Regions from separate parts of the Homo sapiens genome. Here region 2 is linked to region 1. Evidence: fine-mapped expression QTL. Tissue or cell type: esophagus muscle. Region 1 holds a variant in brackets; the other region holds the start of a gene. All regions are shown on one strand. Distances are between the middles of the regions.

Region 1 (8,180 bases):
CTGACCAGATCACCTGGGAAACTCCGGAAACAGATTCCCAGGGGCCGTGCGCGATTCACTAAATGGGAATCTCCAGAGAAGGCTGGGCATCTGTGTTCTTAACACCCCTCGCTCACCCGCATGGTTCTGGCGGTCAACCAGCTTAGAACTCACTGACCTCAACTACGCCACATGAAGTCACCTTTAGCATTTTTATATAATGCAAGCTTCCTCACTGTCACATTATACCACAACCTTCTTCCACCCACCACATTTAGCACGATATATCTATAATACTGAAGTTTAATACTGGTCAGAAGTTCAGAAGAAATAACTCATATGTCCCTTTTTTTTTTTTTTTTTTTGAGACAGTCTCACTCTGTCACCCAAGCTGGAGTACAGTGGTGTGATCACGGCTCACTGCAGCCTCAACCTCCTGGGCTCAAGTGATCCTCCCACTTCAGCCTCCCAAGTAGCTGGGACCACAGGCACATGCCATCACACCCGGCTAAGTTTTTTTTTATTTTTTTGTAGAGAGGGGTCTTCCTATGTTGCCCAGATTGGTCTCAAACTCTTGGGCTCAAGGGATCCTCCCACCTTGGCCTCCCAAAGTGCTAGGATTATAGGTGTGAGCCACCGAGCCCAGCTACCAAATGCAGCAATTTTGTCTTATTATTTAAAACACTGTGTGTTTAGGTACTCTATGAAAAAAAATAATGTAGGAAATGCTTTCCAATTCAAACTATGCAATTAAGAAGTAGTGAAAAAAGGCCAGGCACAGTGGCTCACACCTGTAATCCTAGCACTTTGGGAGTCTGAGGTGTTGGATCACCTGAGCTCAGGAGATCAAGACCACCCTGGGCAACATGGTAAAACCCCATCTTTATACTAAAATACAAAAAATTAGCTGGGCATGGTGGCACGTGCCTGCAGTCCCAGCTACTCAGGAGGCTGAGGCACAAGAATCGCGTGAGCCCTGGCGCCACTGCACTCCAACCTGGGCAACAGAGTGAGACTTTATCTCAAAAATAAATAAATAAATAAATAAACAAACAGAAGTAGTAAAAAAAAAAAAAATCTAGGCTCAATCCAGGAAAGTAAAAAACTTAAGCTAAAAAGGGAAAGATTCCTTAGGAACAGATGATGGGAGAAAAAAAAAATCTCAAACCAAAATAAAATGAAACACTAGAAGAATCCTTATTGAAGCCAGAATTAAGCCAAGGAGATCTACTATCATTATTCTGATTTTACACTGTTTAGGAAGAATTAGATATTACAAATCAAAAAGAACAGAGTAAAGGAAAAGGATTTTGGGAAGAAGGAGGAGATTAAAATTTAATTCTTTTTTTTTTTTTTTTGGACGGAGTCTTGCTCTGTCACCCAGGCTGGAGTGCAGTGGCACAATCTCGGCTCACTGCAACCTCCACCTCCCATGTTTGAGCGATTCTTCTGCCTCAGCCTCCTGAGTAGCTGGGACTACAGGCGTGTACCACCACGCCCTGCTAATTTTTGTATTTTTAGTAAAAACGGGGTTTCACCATGTTGGCCAGGCTAGTCTGGAACTCCTGGCCTCAGGCGATCCACCTCGGCCTCCCAAAGTGCTAGGATTGCAGGCATGAGCCACCGCGCATGGCAAATTTCATTCTTTATAGATGATAACTGTATACCTTGAATAACTAAGGAAATTAAGTGAAAAACTAAAGCAATAAGGGAATTAAAAAAGATGACCAGTTACTAAATGAATAGACAGAAATCAACAACTACCCTGTCTAACAATAAGAACATATAATGGATGAAAACATCCCACTCAGAATGGCAACAGCAATAGAATGTTACCCTTAAGAATACACTACATAACTACATGAATAAGCTATTACTCCTACCCTTAAAAATAATATTGCTCTTTAAATAAACTCTCTATGTACAAGCAGACAAATAGAGACATGCCTTAATCTTACACAGGAAGAGTCCATTTTGTTTTTTTTGTTTTTTGTTTTCTGGTCAATTGGTTCAGGATGAGGAAGAGTCAATATTTTTAAAAGAAATATTGAATATCACTAAATCTACCTACAAATTTAATGCAAAGCCATTCAAAACTGGTGCCAATACTGAAGGTGGTGGTAAATTATACACAGGTGATAGTAAAGGGTTAAAGAGCCATTATAAAGTGTCACATTAGCTATCAAAAATTTTAATGCACATACCCTATTAGCCAAATAGTGCCTTTCTAGGAACCTACCCCACATAAGTATTTGTACATGTATGCAAAGATATACACACACAAAAATGTTCGGTGAAGCACTATAATAGCAAAACCACCACCAGAACCTGGAAACACTCAAAATAGAGGATATATTAAATAAATTATATTACATCCATTCAATAAAATTCTATACAACCATCAAAAATGAAGATGTATACTTACTGCCATAAACGGATATATAATATAGCTTGAAAGTGCTTGAAAACAGTATATATTTATAATGTGAGGCCAGCTTAATAGGGACACAATGCTAGGTTCAAATCCCAGCACCAGCTATGTGATTTCAGGCAAGTAAATTAATCCCTTCATTCCTTGGTTTCTTCATCTCTAAAACGTGGGTAATAATCCCTACCTCAGTGTTAAATGTTGCCATTTTTGGATAATATTTCCTAATTCAAAAGAAGTAGGATTTCATGGTGCAGTGATTTATTTACTTATTACTGAATATTATTTTTTGTATACTAGTGATCTCTATTTCTCTCATGAATTGTCCTTGGATAACTTTTCTACTGGAGTTTTAGTGCTTCTTATCAATTTGTGTGAATGCTTATACACTGAGGATATTTGTGCTTGCTCATTACATTGCTAATTTTTCCCAGCTTGTTGTTTACCTTGTTATACATTTTCTGCAATATAAGTATTTAAACAGTCTAGGTGATCAAATCTACCAATTATTTTCCTGAATAATTTCCTTTATTATGTTTCTACTTTGAAAGTCCCTCTATATGCTAAAATGTCATATCATTTCTCTTCCACTTTTATATATATATATTTTATCCCAAATGGGAAGAACTACACTAATCCAATTTTCCCAAACATATGTATATAAGCATTCAAGACCATCAACTTTGCATTAAAAGCCCTTGGTTTTTTTAACACTACCTTCCCAAAGCTAGCATGATGGAGGTAGGCACTACTCTCAAAAATACATAAACTATACTTACAGATTGCCAGCCATGTTCTCAAACTCACACCACCTTCCATGAGTCCCTTAACTTGTCTGAGACCTTTTCTCATACAGAAATCAGGAAAGACAGAAGAGGAAGCTATGGAAGCAGACCCAATCAATAGCTGCATAAAGCACTACCAATAGTTACATGTCTGCCTTTTAAGCAAAGAATATGTTATAGCTCAAAATTCAAAGCAATATAAAAAGGTATCCTTTAAGAAGTCTTACACTACCCCATTTCTGCCTTCTATCCACCTTCTATTCCTGTGTATCTTTCCGATGCTTCTCTCTGTACATACAATATATTATTATTTGCCCCAAATATTTTTTTTTTTTTTTTGAGATGGAGTTCCGCTCTTGTTGCCCAGGCTGGAGTGCAATGGCGCGATCTTGGCTCACTGAAACCTCCGCCTCCTGGGTTCAAGCGATTCTCCTGCCTCAGCCTCCCGAGTAGCTGGGATTACAGGCATGCGCCACTACGCCCAGCTAATTTTGTATTTCTAGTAGAGACAGGGTTTCTCCATGTTGGTCAGGCTGGTCTCAAACTCCCAACCTTAGGTGATCTGCCCGCCTCGGCCTCCCAAAGTGCTGGGATTACAGGCTGAGCTATCACACCCAGCCTGCCCCAAACATTTTAAACAGTTCTTGCACGAAGACTCTTTCACTTTACTTGTTAAATGCTCCTATCTTTTGACAGCAGTAATATGTAGACTTTTCAGTTCTGCAAAGTCAGGAAAATTAACCTATTGTTGACTCAACATATTTATATATAATTGAAACTCCTCTTCCAACCATGTGTCTTAAGCAGAAGGTAATGAACCTAAGGTCAATTAATTTATGTTTGAAAGTAGAAATGTTACATCTTAAAACAGTGTTTTACATCTTTTTTTTTTTTTTTTTTTGAGACAGGGTCTCACTCTGTCACCCAGGCTGGAGTGCAGTGGTGCAATCATAGCTCATTGCAGCATTGACCTCCTGGCCTCAAGCAATCATCTGCCTCAACTTCCTGAGTGGCCGAGACTATAGGTGCACGACACCATGCCTGGCTAGTGTTCTCAAACTGTGTCCTGTGAGAAGTTCTTTTGATTGAGACCCCTGGTGAGGTCCAGTCTCAAACCCCAAACTTCAATCAGAATAGCTCTACTCCCTCTTAAGATTTTTCACAGTTTAAACATGGTTTTGATAAAAGTAAAATTGTTCCCAGACGCTAACAATAGTTTTAAAGCAACGCACAATCTCCATATTGTGCAATGTAAATTACATGACCAATTTTTTTAATGTTCCTTGGCTTGCTGCATAGAAAAGCATAGTCTCTATAGAACGAAGAATTCAATATATAAAGTTCAAACTTAAATATTTTATCCAGATCCAGTATCTTTGCCCGTCCTTAAATTTTCTATTTCTCCTTCTGAGTACTTTTTTTTTCTCTATGTTACTTCGTATATATAAGATCATAAAGCACACTGCCCTTTTGTGAATTCTGAACATTGTTGTAAGGTAAACTCTGACTTCCAGTTAAAGTGTTTTAAAAGTGTTTTAACTGTTTAAATGATGGACTAAACATATTATCTAATTTCACTCTTTCCCAAAGCCCCACTAAAACCAAAGCAAAAAAAATTTTTAAGCAATTATTTTAAAAATTAAAAAAAAAATTTAGGCCAGGCGCAGTGGCTCACACCTGTAATCCCAACACTTCGGGAGGCCGAGGCAGGCGGATCACCTGAGGTCGGGAGTTCGAGACCAGGCTGGCCAACAGGGAGAAACCCCATCTCTACTAAAAATACAAAACTAGTCAGGTGCGGTGGCGCATGCCTGTAATCCCAGCTACTCGGGAGGCTGAGACAGGAGAAT[T/C]GCTTGAACCCAGGAGGCGGAGGTTGCAGTGAGTTGAGATCACGCCATTGCACTCCAGCCTGGGCAACAAGAGCAAAACTCCATCTCAAAAAACAACAACAACAAAAAATTTAAAGCAATATTAAACCATGAGGATGTGGAGAAAAGAAAAGGTGACAACAGCAAGATTTTGGCCCTGAAAAGCTGAGGACCCATCGTGCCTGACTTTAGAGATATAAGAAAGACAGCAGGGGCAAGAGCTGAGAACGAGCCCAACACACTCCCTAGATCCTTAAAGGCTCTGGAACTTGTTGGTGCCCATGTACCTGTGGGACTGGAATAGGAGGGCTGAGGAGCAAGTGCGGACAGCCCAAAATACTCAGGCCATGGTGAGACCCTCTGCCGCCCCACACTGCTGGGCACTTGCTCCTCCCTGGCTTCAGCCTTCTCTACAAGTTTTCCGGAATGTGTAAAGCAAAGGTTCTCTGCACCCACAGTTAACTGGCAGGGTCGGAGTACAATGATAAAATCAAACATTTTTAAATAAACCAAAAAAATAATAATTAAACCCTTGTTTCATTTAATTTTTTTTGTTTTGCAATCAAATAATACTCACGCTTTCTTTTACTGTGCATTTGTTTGGCTTATTTTTGAACCATCCTTTTGCTTTTTTTTTTTGAGACAGAGTCACTCTGTTGCCCAGGCTGGAGTGCAGTATCATGATCTCCACTCCCTGCAACTGCCACCTCCCGGGTTCAAGCGATTCTCCTGCCTCAGCCTCCTGAGTAGCTGGTATTACAGGCATCCACCACCATGCCCAGCTAATTTTTGTATTTTTAGTAGAGACGGGGTTTCACCATGTTGGCCAGGCTGGTCTCGAACTCTGACCTCAAGTGATCCACCCACCTCGGCCTCTCAAAGTGCTGGGATTACAGGCGTGAGCCACCGCGTCTGGCCCCTTTTACTTTCTTTTTTGAATTTTTTTCCAACCTTTTACTTTCTGAATGAATGACTTATATGTAACTACCATAGTTTTTGTTTAGTACAGAAAGTGAATTTAGTTGAGTCCATGCCAGGTGAGGTCATCTCAGGTGCAACAGTCTTACTCGTTTTAACTTTTGTACTATTCCTTGTTGTTGCCTGTTTCCTTTTACTCTGTAATCTATTTTATTTGGTTGCTTTTCTTCCTCTCAATTTTACTTTTACTTTTACATTTCAAAGGTATACAAAGTCTGTTTTTAGCATAATAGCCTTCTCAATTTATCAATTTCAAAAAAATGAAACAGTATTCCTTAACCACATATTCTGAAAGATACGACAATTAGCACAGTGGTATCTCCCACTCCCCAGCCCAAACCTAACCTAATCCCCCATGATATTGTTGACTTCCAGGAAATTTTGCTATGGCATGTTATCATTGTGTTGACATTTTTAAGGTTGAGTCGGTATTTATTCAATTGTTTTTGCCTTCTGGCTTATTTCTCCAAGAAAGATTATTCAATTATTGAAGCTGGTATCTTTATACTTCAACCTCTCTATTTCTGGAGCCCTCACTGATTCATCTTTCAGTTGGCTGGGTTATATCTGCAAGTAGATTTTTCAGTGAGGTTTATGAATGCCATTAATTCCTGAGCTTTTGCCCATTTGCAAATGTCTTATTATGCTGCATTTTAATGACATTTCAATCCAATCACATTGTCTTCCTTCTTGCCCTAACTCCCCTACTCTTGTTTTTTCCTTTTGAGCCAGAGTCTCGCTTTGTCACCCAGGCTGGAGTGCAGTGGCGCAGTCACAACTCACGGTAACCTCGAACTCTTAGATTCACACTATCCTCCCACCTCTGCCTCCCAGGTTACTGACACCACAGGCACGCATCACCACACCTGGCTTTTTCTTTTAGGGGGCAGGGGGACAGAGACAGGGTCTTGCTATGTTCCCCAGGCTGGTCTCCAACTCCTGGGCTCAAGCAATCCTCCTGCCTTGGCCTCCCAAAGTGCTGGGATTACAGGCATTAGCCACTGTGCCCAGTCCCCCTACATTCTTAAGCATTGCTTCATCATCTTTTGGCACATTACACTGTTGAAAACCCCAAGACTAAGGTGATTTTATTTTTTCCATTATAGGTGGCCTGTTGGCTTTTTTCCTGCTTAAATATGTGTAGTATTCTTTTATCTTTTAGGGGTTTGTTTTGTTTTGTTTTTGAGATGGAGTTTCACTCTCGTTGCCCAGGCTGAAGTGCAATGTCATGATCTTGGCTCACCTCAACCTCTGCCTCCCAGGTTCAAGCGATTCTCCTGCCTCAGCTTCCCAAGTAGCTGGATTTACAGGCATGCACCACCACACCTGGCTAATTTTGTATTTTTAGTAGAGATGGGGTTTCTCCATGTTGGTCAGCTGGTCTGACCCCAGGTGATCTGCCCACCTCGGCTTCCCAAAGTGCTGGGATTACAGGCGTGAGCCACCGTGCCCGGCCTATCTTTCAGGTTTTATAAATTAACCAGGATACGCTTCCATTTTAATGACTCTGAATTTTTTCCAGTTCACAGTGAGTCCTTATATTAATATTATATGATCTTTCATTATATTCCAGGAAAACTTTGTCTTTTATTTATTAATGTTACATCTGTTCCACACACTCTGTTCTCTTCAGCAGGAACACCAGCTCTGACTACAGTAGATGCCTTCTGGACTCTTCTCCCACAGCTTCCATCTTCTTTCTAATCACCATGACCTCTTTGTTCTTTCCTACCGTGGTCTACGTAATTTCAGGAAGTTGATCCTCACATCAGTGATTTCAGAACCACTGGTACTACCTCATGTAACCTCCAACATGCTTTTAATTCCTGAAATGATTTTAGTTTTCTATTTCTTTCCTTATGGATGTCAGCTGACCTCCATCTCCTCCTTTTAGCTTTCTTTAATCTTTTAAAATTACTTCTTTGTTCTTTTGTTTTATTGAGCTCGTGTTGTCTAAATTTAAGAGCAAAGTGGCTTTATCTAAAATTCCATTCTAGCTGGGCACAGTGGCTCACACTAGTAATCCCAGCACTTTGGGAGGCTGAGGCAGGCAGATCACCTGAAGTCAAGAGTTCAAGACCAGCCTGGCCAACATGGTGAAACCCCATCTCTACTAAAAATACAAAAATTAGCCAGGCATGG
Region 2 (8,175 bases), 44 kb before region 1:
TGTCCCATCAGTGTAGCTTGTCTCAAGAGGTTTACACTGTGGCTGTGTTTCTCACAGGTTACCCAAACTCCTATCATAAAGGCAGGAAACAGAAGTAAAAAACCTGAATCCAAACCACAGGAAGTGCTGCGGAGATACTGATTCGTGGGTTGATCAGAGCCCAGGAGGCACTAAAGGCTCAATGAACATGGTGATCTTTGTGCAAGAGATGTTCCATCAAGGCTTACCTGGCTGGGTGGTAGCTTTTTGGCCTCTGTTGGGGGCTGGGAATCCTTCACCCAAAGCTCATGTTCCCTTTCAAGTCTACAAGTGATCTCTGGTTTGGCAGCAGCATGCACTGTAGGGAGAAAGACAGCCCAGTGCCCCTCAACCCACACTGAGCGCACATAGACCCGTGTCAGTCCTGAAGCCTGACTTGCACCACCCATTTAATGCCCTGGGCTCACCCTATCAATTTGGGACAGCGGGGGTAGGTTGTAAACCTAAGAGAGCTCCAGAAGTAGGCAGGGCCTGGCATACAGGTAGGGATGTTTATTTCAGGGCAACTTCAGGAGTGCCAAGGGCTGATAAAACAGTGCAATTGTCATAATATGTTTTCCCACTGCCAGGGCCCTTGAAGGAGAAACAGGCTCAACTAGTCACAGAGACAACCATGCTCTGGGTCTAGTTCTCCCTGACCCCACAGGCCAGGAGTGCCCCTATTAGATGGCAAGCAAGCAAGGGGCCAAGGTCCTCACCCAGCAAGACTCCCAGCTCCTAATTCCTTCTTATCACATCCTGGTATAATTCCTTCTACTCATGGCCACCAGAACAATGGGTGGAAGGTAGGTGGTTACATCATTAAATGTCACAGGCCTTATTTGCAAAGACAGAGACATCTGGAGCTGTTGTTCTCACCTCCGACACGTGCCCCGTCTGCAGAGAGCATTAGGATGCATCTGTGGCTCTGAGGTGTGATTTCCTAGGGCCTTCAAGTGTCCTGGGGCTCCTGTTCATTTGCACTGGGGGACACTCAGGGAAGTTTTAAAGAGCCTCTTTCAGTGGCTCCTTCTCCTTCTACCCTTTCTAGGAATTCATCAGCCCCATGAAAAGATGAACGATAGAGATGTCACCAACATCAGGACCCCACTCCCTGGGAGATGTCATGGAAACTTGTCAATCACACCCAAAGCACTCACTGAGGAGCCATGGCAGAGCAGTCGGTGGCGCCAATACCAACCAGAAGCCGCCAGGGCAGAGGGGAACCGTGAAGCCAGTGGAATGCACAGCTCCACCTCAGGGGACCGGGGTAGGCGGGGCTGTGTCTGGTAACATGCCCTTTGCCTCACATTAGTGCCTCTGAAAATAGTGTCCTCAGCCTGGGCACAAACCCTAGGGGTGAGCTGGGAGTGTGGAGGAGACGCTGGATTAGGGAGAAGTCTCGGCCATGTGTTCTGGCTCTTTTACTGATGAGCTGTGTGGGCCTAGGCAAGTTACTTCACTTCTCTGGGCCTCAGTTTTATCACCTGTAAAGTGATAGGATTGCCTTAGCCTCTAAGATCCCTTTCAGCTAAAAACAAAGTTCTAGAAAATAAATATGTGGTACTGTGGAACTCTGGGGAGCTGTTTGATCAGGTGAACAGTTTACCCATGGAAATGGGGCTCCAGCACAAAGCTGCTCACATCTTCCAGTCACGCTCCAGGGAACAGCCAGGGCTTGTGGGCCCAGATGAGGCTTTAGTGGTTGGAGAAGGAGCCAGTTCCTGGTTTTAATCCCTTCATGGACCTCAGACCATCACAAAGCTGCCAAACAAATGACACAGGCAATCACATGCAAATTAGGACAGAAATGAAACATCAAAGACATTAAAGGAAAAGAGTAAGAGCTGCAGGCTGCTAATATGAGTGGCTGCTCAGACTCAGCAATGTTTTTGGTTCTGGCCAAAGCCAAGACAAAGGAGCAGAGGCAAAGAAGGAAATACATTTCACTTTACAGCTGTCATTTTCTACAGAGGATTTTTTTTTTTCCAGAACAAAATTCAAAAAGTCCGTCTTTTTTGAGCTATAGAACTTTCGTGGTGATTTTTTTTTTTTTTTTTTTTTTGAGACGGAGTCTCACTCTGTCCCCCAGGCTGGAGTGCAGGGGCACAATCTCGGCTCACTGCAAGTGCAAGCTCTGCCTCCCGGGTTCACGCCATTCTCCTTTCAGCCTCCAAAGTAGCTAGGACTACAGGTGCCCGCCACCATGCCCAGCTAATTTTTTTATATTTTTAGTAGAGACGGGGTTTCACCGTGTTAGCCAGGATGGTCTCGATCTCCTGACCTCGTGATCCGCCCGCCTCTGCCTCCCATAGTGCTGGGATTACAGGTGTGAGCCACTGCGCTCAGCCCTCGTGGTGATTTTTTGAAGGCCTGTATGGACATACTCTTAACTCTATCTCCTGGATGCCAAGTGCACCCTTATCCTAGGCCAGTGTTCTCAACAATGTACACACTCTGGATGAGAAAAATAACCATTGTTTACAATCCAGCTAAAATCTCACCTCCTCCAGGGAGTCTTCCTGGATTTCTCCACCCTCTGAATTCTCATAATGGGCATTTGGCTACTTTGATCACAGGGCTCTTAGAACTGCGCTGTCCAGCATTATGATTTTACCAGAATATATCACTCCTCAACTACTTTAGAAACCCCTCGAAGGCTAGGATGGTATTTTATACCTAACAGTTTGGTGTCATCCCACGCCCACCTCCAACTTACATGAATGTTGGAAGGATGGATAGGGAGGTTTCAACTAGAGAACGGAGAAGGGCGGATGTAACTGGTTCTTGATTTCAGAAAACAGCCAGGAGCACACATGGCTGACGGGGTCAGTGCAAGGACAGGCACATTTCCCTTCTGCATCACGTGGGGACTGCGCCTCCCTATGTCATGAAGCCAGGGAATATGTGTGGCCGGCCGCTTGGGGTAGCACTTGTTGCTAGAGATACCGCCTGGAGGCCACTGATCTGTAAAAGGGATCTCTACAGAAGATAGGGATTTTTGATCGCCAGAGAAGAAGGGATATGTGAGATCCAAACGCCGAAGGAGGAAAGCAGGCTCCGTGGTCTCTTCCAGCCCTGATGGAAGAAACTACCGAGCCTTATTATACTAGGTGCTTTCCACATGCCTATTCATTTAATCCTCCAGCAACCTTGTAAGAAGGGCCATCCCATTTTATATTTAAACAAACCTTAACTACTGACGCAAGGAGTCAAGGATCTAATCCCAAAGCCTCTGCCTGGTTCGCTGCAGATGGATGTCCGCGAGGACGCCAGCCCTCCGCCTCCCGCCGGGTCCCTGAACGCCGGCCCGGCCGGTCCAACCTCATTCCGCTTCCCGCCATCGAAACGCGAAGCCCCCGCCTTCCCCCAAACGTCTCAGCGCCGCTGGGGCCTTTCTGGCTGCGCCGCCTCCGACCCCAGGCCCCGGTCCGCGCCCGCCGCTCGCTAGTCCTGGGAGTGAGGAGAACGCGTGCTGAGGACCCGGCCAGAGGGACAGCGGGGACCGCCCTCCCGCTGCGTCTCTGAAAGCGAGGCCGTTCCTCCCGCGTCCGACCCCCGCGGGGCCGTCAGGTTCGGGGCGGCCCAGGCTGCGGGTCCGCAGGGCGCTTCGGGCCGAGCCGGCGCGGCGCGTGAAGGGCAGGGGACGCCCCGAAAGACCGCTGGGGTGGGACCCCAAGCTCCAGGGGTCTTTGGAAATAAGAATGCGGCGTGACGTTGGCTGTGCGGGCGCGGGGCTGACGCGGACCCTATAACCCATCGCCGAAACCGGGCGGCCGCGCCCCTATTCCTCGGCATTTCTCTCTGTCCGCGGCCCTGCTCAGCCAATCAGCGAGTGGGCTCCTAGGCAGGTCCTGAGTGACAGCGCGGCGGGCTGGATCAGGAGATGCGCGTGCGCGGCCCGGCCCGGCTGATCGCTTCGGGTGCTCGACTCCTGTTGCGCATGCTCAGCGCGCTGCCCGGCTGGGGACCCGCGCACCTGCAGCGCCCGCTGCTCGGCCCTGCATCCTGCCTGGGCATCCTGCGCCCGGCCATGACGGCGCACTCATTCGCCCTCCCGGTCATCATCTTCACCACGTTCTGGGGCCTCGTCGGCATCGCCGGGCCCTGGTTCGTGCCGAAGGGACCCAACCGCGGGTAAGGAAAGCGCGCAGGCCCTGCAGACCTCTCCACCCCGGCCCCCTGGCCCGGCTCGCCCCTCCGCCCCGGGGCGGCGGCTTCCTGCTCTGCAGCGAGCGTCCGCAGGAGGGACGCCAGGACCCCGGACGCCACCTCTGAGGTCTCTCTGCACCTGGGTCTCTGACAGCCGGGAACAGGCAGGAGGTGGGGCGAGAGGGCATATCCAGAAGGTAAAGAGGAGAGTGACATTGGAGATGTCTGTCACCCCTCCTGCAGCCAGTAAAGGGCACAAGTGGGCACTGACGCAGTTTCTCCACTCCTTGCTAGCTGTGTGACCTAGAGCCAATATCAAGTCTCAGTTTCTTCATGGGTAAAATGGAGATAATGTCGACTCCTGCCTTAAAAGGCTGCTGTGAGGATGACCTGCGGTAACGCATTTAAAACACCTACCAGTGCGTGACACTTTGTAGGTATGGGATAAGTTTAGCTGGCGTTATTTTTCGAAGGTCCTCTAGCAGATTGCTGCGCCATTCACCAGTTTCTGCTTCATATTATCTTCAGTTACAAAGCACCCTTCCCTTGACTGCATGTTCCCAGGGGCTGGAGTTTGTCCAGTTCACCATTGTCTACTCAGTGCCCAGCCAGGACTGGCACAACCTGCTTAGTAATGTTGAAAAAGGGATCGCGTGCTCCTGTGTCCAGCACCAGCTTGCAGTGCTTTAGATCAAAGATCAAGGGCCTCGTTTGGATTAGAGTTAGCTTTGCCCAAAGGCCGTTTGGACATGTGAGTGCTGCCTTTGTTCTTAAAGACAGGCAGGGTTTGGGATCCCACAGCTTCACTTTGTAAACCATTTTCGTGTCTTGCGTCTCCTGCTATTCTTGGTGAGTTCTTGCTTCAGTTTGACTGAAATTTCTTTTGCTGCACTTGAAGCATCTGTCTCTGGTCTTCTCTGAGTACACGCAAAGTGGCTAGTCCCTGTTCTCTTTGTAACAACTCACTGGGCCTCAGAACTGGCTCACAGTCTGCCTGCTTCTTGCCCTGTCTTCTAGCCTATTGTTTTCCTTCCCCTTGCTCCATGAATTTTGAATTCTACAGACCACTCCCTGTTGGGTTGCCACAAATGCAGCTCTGTGCAGTGCCTTTCCACAACACGTCTGCATTAAGATGGAGCAATATTGGGTGGTAGAGAAGGGAAATGAAGGGAAGGATTCTTAAGGCAACTTGGATGTGGTCAAGGTTGGCCTCTCTGTGAGGTGACACTTTCAGTTTTTATTTTCTGCCTTGCTATTCTTACCCTGAGTAGAACTCAGCCTCCTGTGTCCAGGAGGCATCAGGAAGGCCAATGGAAAAGAGCTCACACCAGGAGCTCTTCTTGCTCTGGTCCTGGCCAGGCCTTGTGAGGTGCTGGCTGCATTTGTTCTGACCCGTGTCCTCTTCTGCTGCAGAGTGATCATCACCATGCTGGTCGCCACCGCCGTCTGCTGTTACCTCTTGTAAGTACTACTCTCCCCAGCTCAAAGTCAGCCAGTTCCTTTGTCCTCCCTCCTTTCCTCCTCACCCTAGCCTGCTCTTCCTTCTGTCCTGGTAGTAAATGCCTCTTGAAAGGCTGAACCTATAAAACAACAGGAGTGGAGGTGGTGTGGAATGGGAAAGAGAGCAGTGGGCCAGAAGTCATGAACCCTGGGCTCTGGATCTGGCTCTGCCCCCAGAGTTCTGGCCCCCATGGGCTGTAGTTTTCTCACCTGGGCAAGGAAGGAGGCAGGCCACCTCAGTGCTGTCTGTGCCTGACTGGGTCACCTGGAGTGATTGTTCAAACACAGTTTTCAGGCTGCACCCTACACCCATGAAATTACAACTCTCGAGATCTGCACTTGGGAATTCCTGTTGTTCATGAATGCCCCCAGGTGACTGGAATGCAGCCATCTTAGAACCACTAGGTGAGAGGCCAGACGTGGCGGCTCACGCCTGTAATCCCAGCACTTTGGGAGGCTGAGGTGGGTGGATCACGAGGTCAGGAGTTCGAGACCAGTCTGGCCAACATAGTGAAACTCCGTCTCTACTAAAAATACAAAAATTAGCCAGGCCTGGTGGCGCGTGCCTGTAGTCCCAGCTACTCAGGAGGCTGAGGCAGGAGAATCGCTTGAACCCGGGAGACGGAGGTTGCGGTGAGCCAAGATCTTACCACTGCACTCCAGCCTGGGCAACAGAGTGAGACTCCGACTCTAAAAAAAGAACCACTAGGTGAGAGTAAGTCATCAAACTTGGAATAGGTACCCTGGGGATATAGAAGAACATTCCAAGGGACTTGAATACCTGGAGAGTGTGAGGAAATCAGTTTGCAGATCCTCAGTGTCTATTGTTTAGTCTCTTGCTAAAACTGCCATTCACAATAGCCAATCCCTCTTTATTAAAAAAATTTTTTAAAAGGAAAAAGAAAAAGACCCTGCCCCCGCATCCATCCCAAACCTGCGGTTACATTGCTCCATGTTTAGATGATCCTGGCTGCCAACCAAGAGATAAGTTCAAGTTCTAGTTTGTTGGGAGGCCTGTCTCATGGTTAATCAAGCTGCATTAAGGCTGTTGGGTTTCCCATCTTCCTATGTCTTGTACATTATTTTTATGGGTTAAGCTTGGCATCGTTGGGTGTTCTTAATTCAGAATAATCAAAACAGGACAGGTAAAGTGATGAGATGCTCATTCTTTAAGAGGTAACAGATTCTTTTGAAACAACTGGAATATTTTCCAGGGTTGCCAAATTTTTCAAAATACATAGGACAAAACCCACTTTCAAAAAATTTACTTCATTGATTTAAGATTTGATGTTATCATAGTTAAAATTGTTTTATCTGATTAGGTCATGGATTCTTTATTCCTATTAACCAATTCTCTTAATTTACCTTATGTTTTATTGATTGATTGATTGAAATGGGGTCTTGAGACCAGGCCAGTATGGTCTCAAACTCCTGGGCTCAAATGATCCTTCTGCCTCAGCCTCCCCAAGGAGCTGGGATGACAGGTGCACACCATTGCACCCGGCTGTTAACTAATTAGATAATTGACAGGGTCTTACTCTGTTGCCCAGGCTAGAGTGCAGTGGTGGGATCATAGCTCACTGCAGCCTCAACCTTCTGGGCTCAAGCCATCCTCCCACCTCAGCCTAGCTTTGACCACAGGCATGTGCCACCATGCCTGGCTGATTTTTAAATTTTCTGTAGGACAGGGTCTTGCCATGTTGCTAAGGCTGTGCTTGAACTCCTTGGCTTAAGTGATCCTTCCACCTCAGCCTCCTGAGTAGCTAGGATTACAGGTACACGCCACTGCACCCAGAAATGTATAAGCCCTCCTACTGACAAAAACTAAACTTGTTAGAAATAATGATGACTATTAACACATGGTTTAACTTAAACCCACTTTTTTTTTTTTTTTCAAAATTCTTCCTGGACAGAGCATTCTCTGAGGTCCTTTCTCTAATGCTATTTCTAGGTCCTTCAGGGCTTGAGAAAAGATCCTCATCTGCCCATGGCAGGGCCTCAGAGGGGCTTGTGTTTGGTGGCTGGGAGGGTGGGGGAGACGGGGCCTACACAAGATGCGGGGTAATCCCAAATACCAACTGAATCAACATACGGGAAACAGAAAACACACTGCAAATTGGATGCATACAGGTAGAAAGGTGGGGTCATTCTAAGAAAATGTTACGCCTAGAAATTATATTTACAAAACATAAACTCGGAGAGAATGCTGATGTAAAGGAGGTAACAATTTCTGATGGCTTCCTGGGCGTTAGGTCCTCCTACCTACTGTGAGGGATTCAAAGAGGGAAAATACCGATCCTTCCTGCAGAAACAGACAAAGCAGTGTGGATGTGGTCGTGGGGGGCCCTTCCAGGTCAGGCACTGACAGAGCGTGGGGACCTACTAACTACTGTGGCAAATGAAGTTGGGAGCTTTGTCATGAATGATGGGGCCAGACAGCCACCCACACGCCCAGCAGTGATGACAGGTGGGGCAGGTCCCTGAGGGTTTTCTGGCCTGAAGAAC

What was found. PIP is the estimated chance that this variant, and not a neighbour inherited with it, causes the effect.
Region 2: ATP6V0E2-AS1 starts here. The variant in region 1 is fine-mapped to the expression of ATP6V0E2-AS1 in esophagus muscle (GTEx, PIP above 0.99).

The regions. Positions count from the first base shown.
Region 1 is chr7:149,913,562-149,921,741 of GRCh38, forward strand. It overlaps a transcript of ACTR3C not described here. Among named protein-coding and RNA genes, the nearest start is that of ATP6V0E2, 44 kb to the left of the region's middle. The variant T/C (reference allele first, on the strand shown) is at 5,043.
Region 2 is chr7:149,870,015-149,878,189 of GRCh38, forward strand. It overlaps ATP6V0E2-AS1 (ATP6V0E2 antisense RNA 1), which reads right to left and starts at 3,848. Exons shown (of 4, transcript NR_027040.1): 1 at 3,210-3,848; 2 at 1,628-1,782; 3 at 228-337. It overlaps ATP6V0E2 (ATPase H+ transporting V0 subunit e2), which reads left to right and starts at 3,955. Exons shown (of 4, transcript NM_145230.4): 1 at 3,955-4,155; 2 at 5,584-5,631. The coding sequence starts at 4,052. RefSeq lists silencers at 3,482-3,691, 3,722-3,801, 4,212-4,391 and enhancers at 3,754-4,722, 4,052-4,191.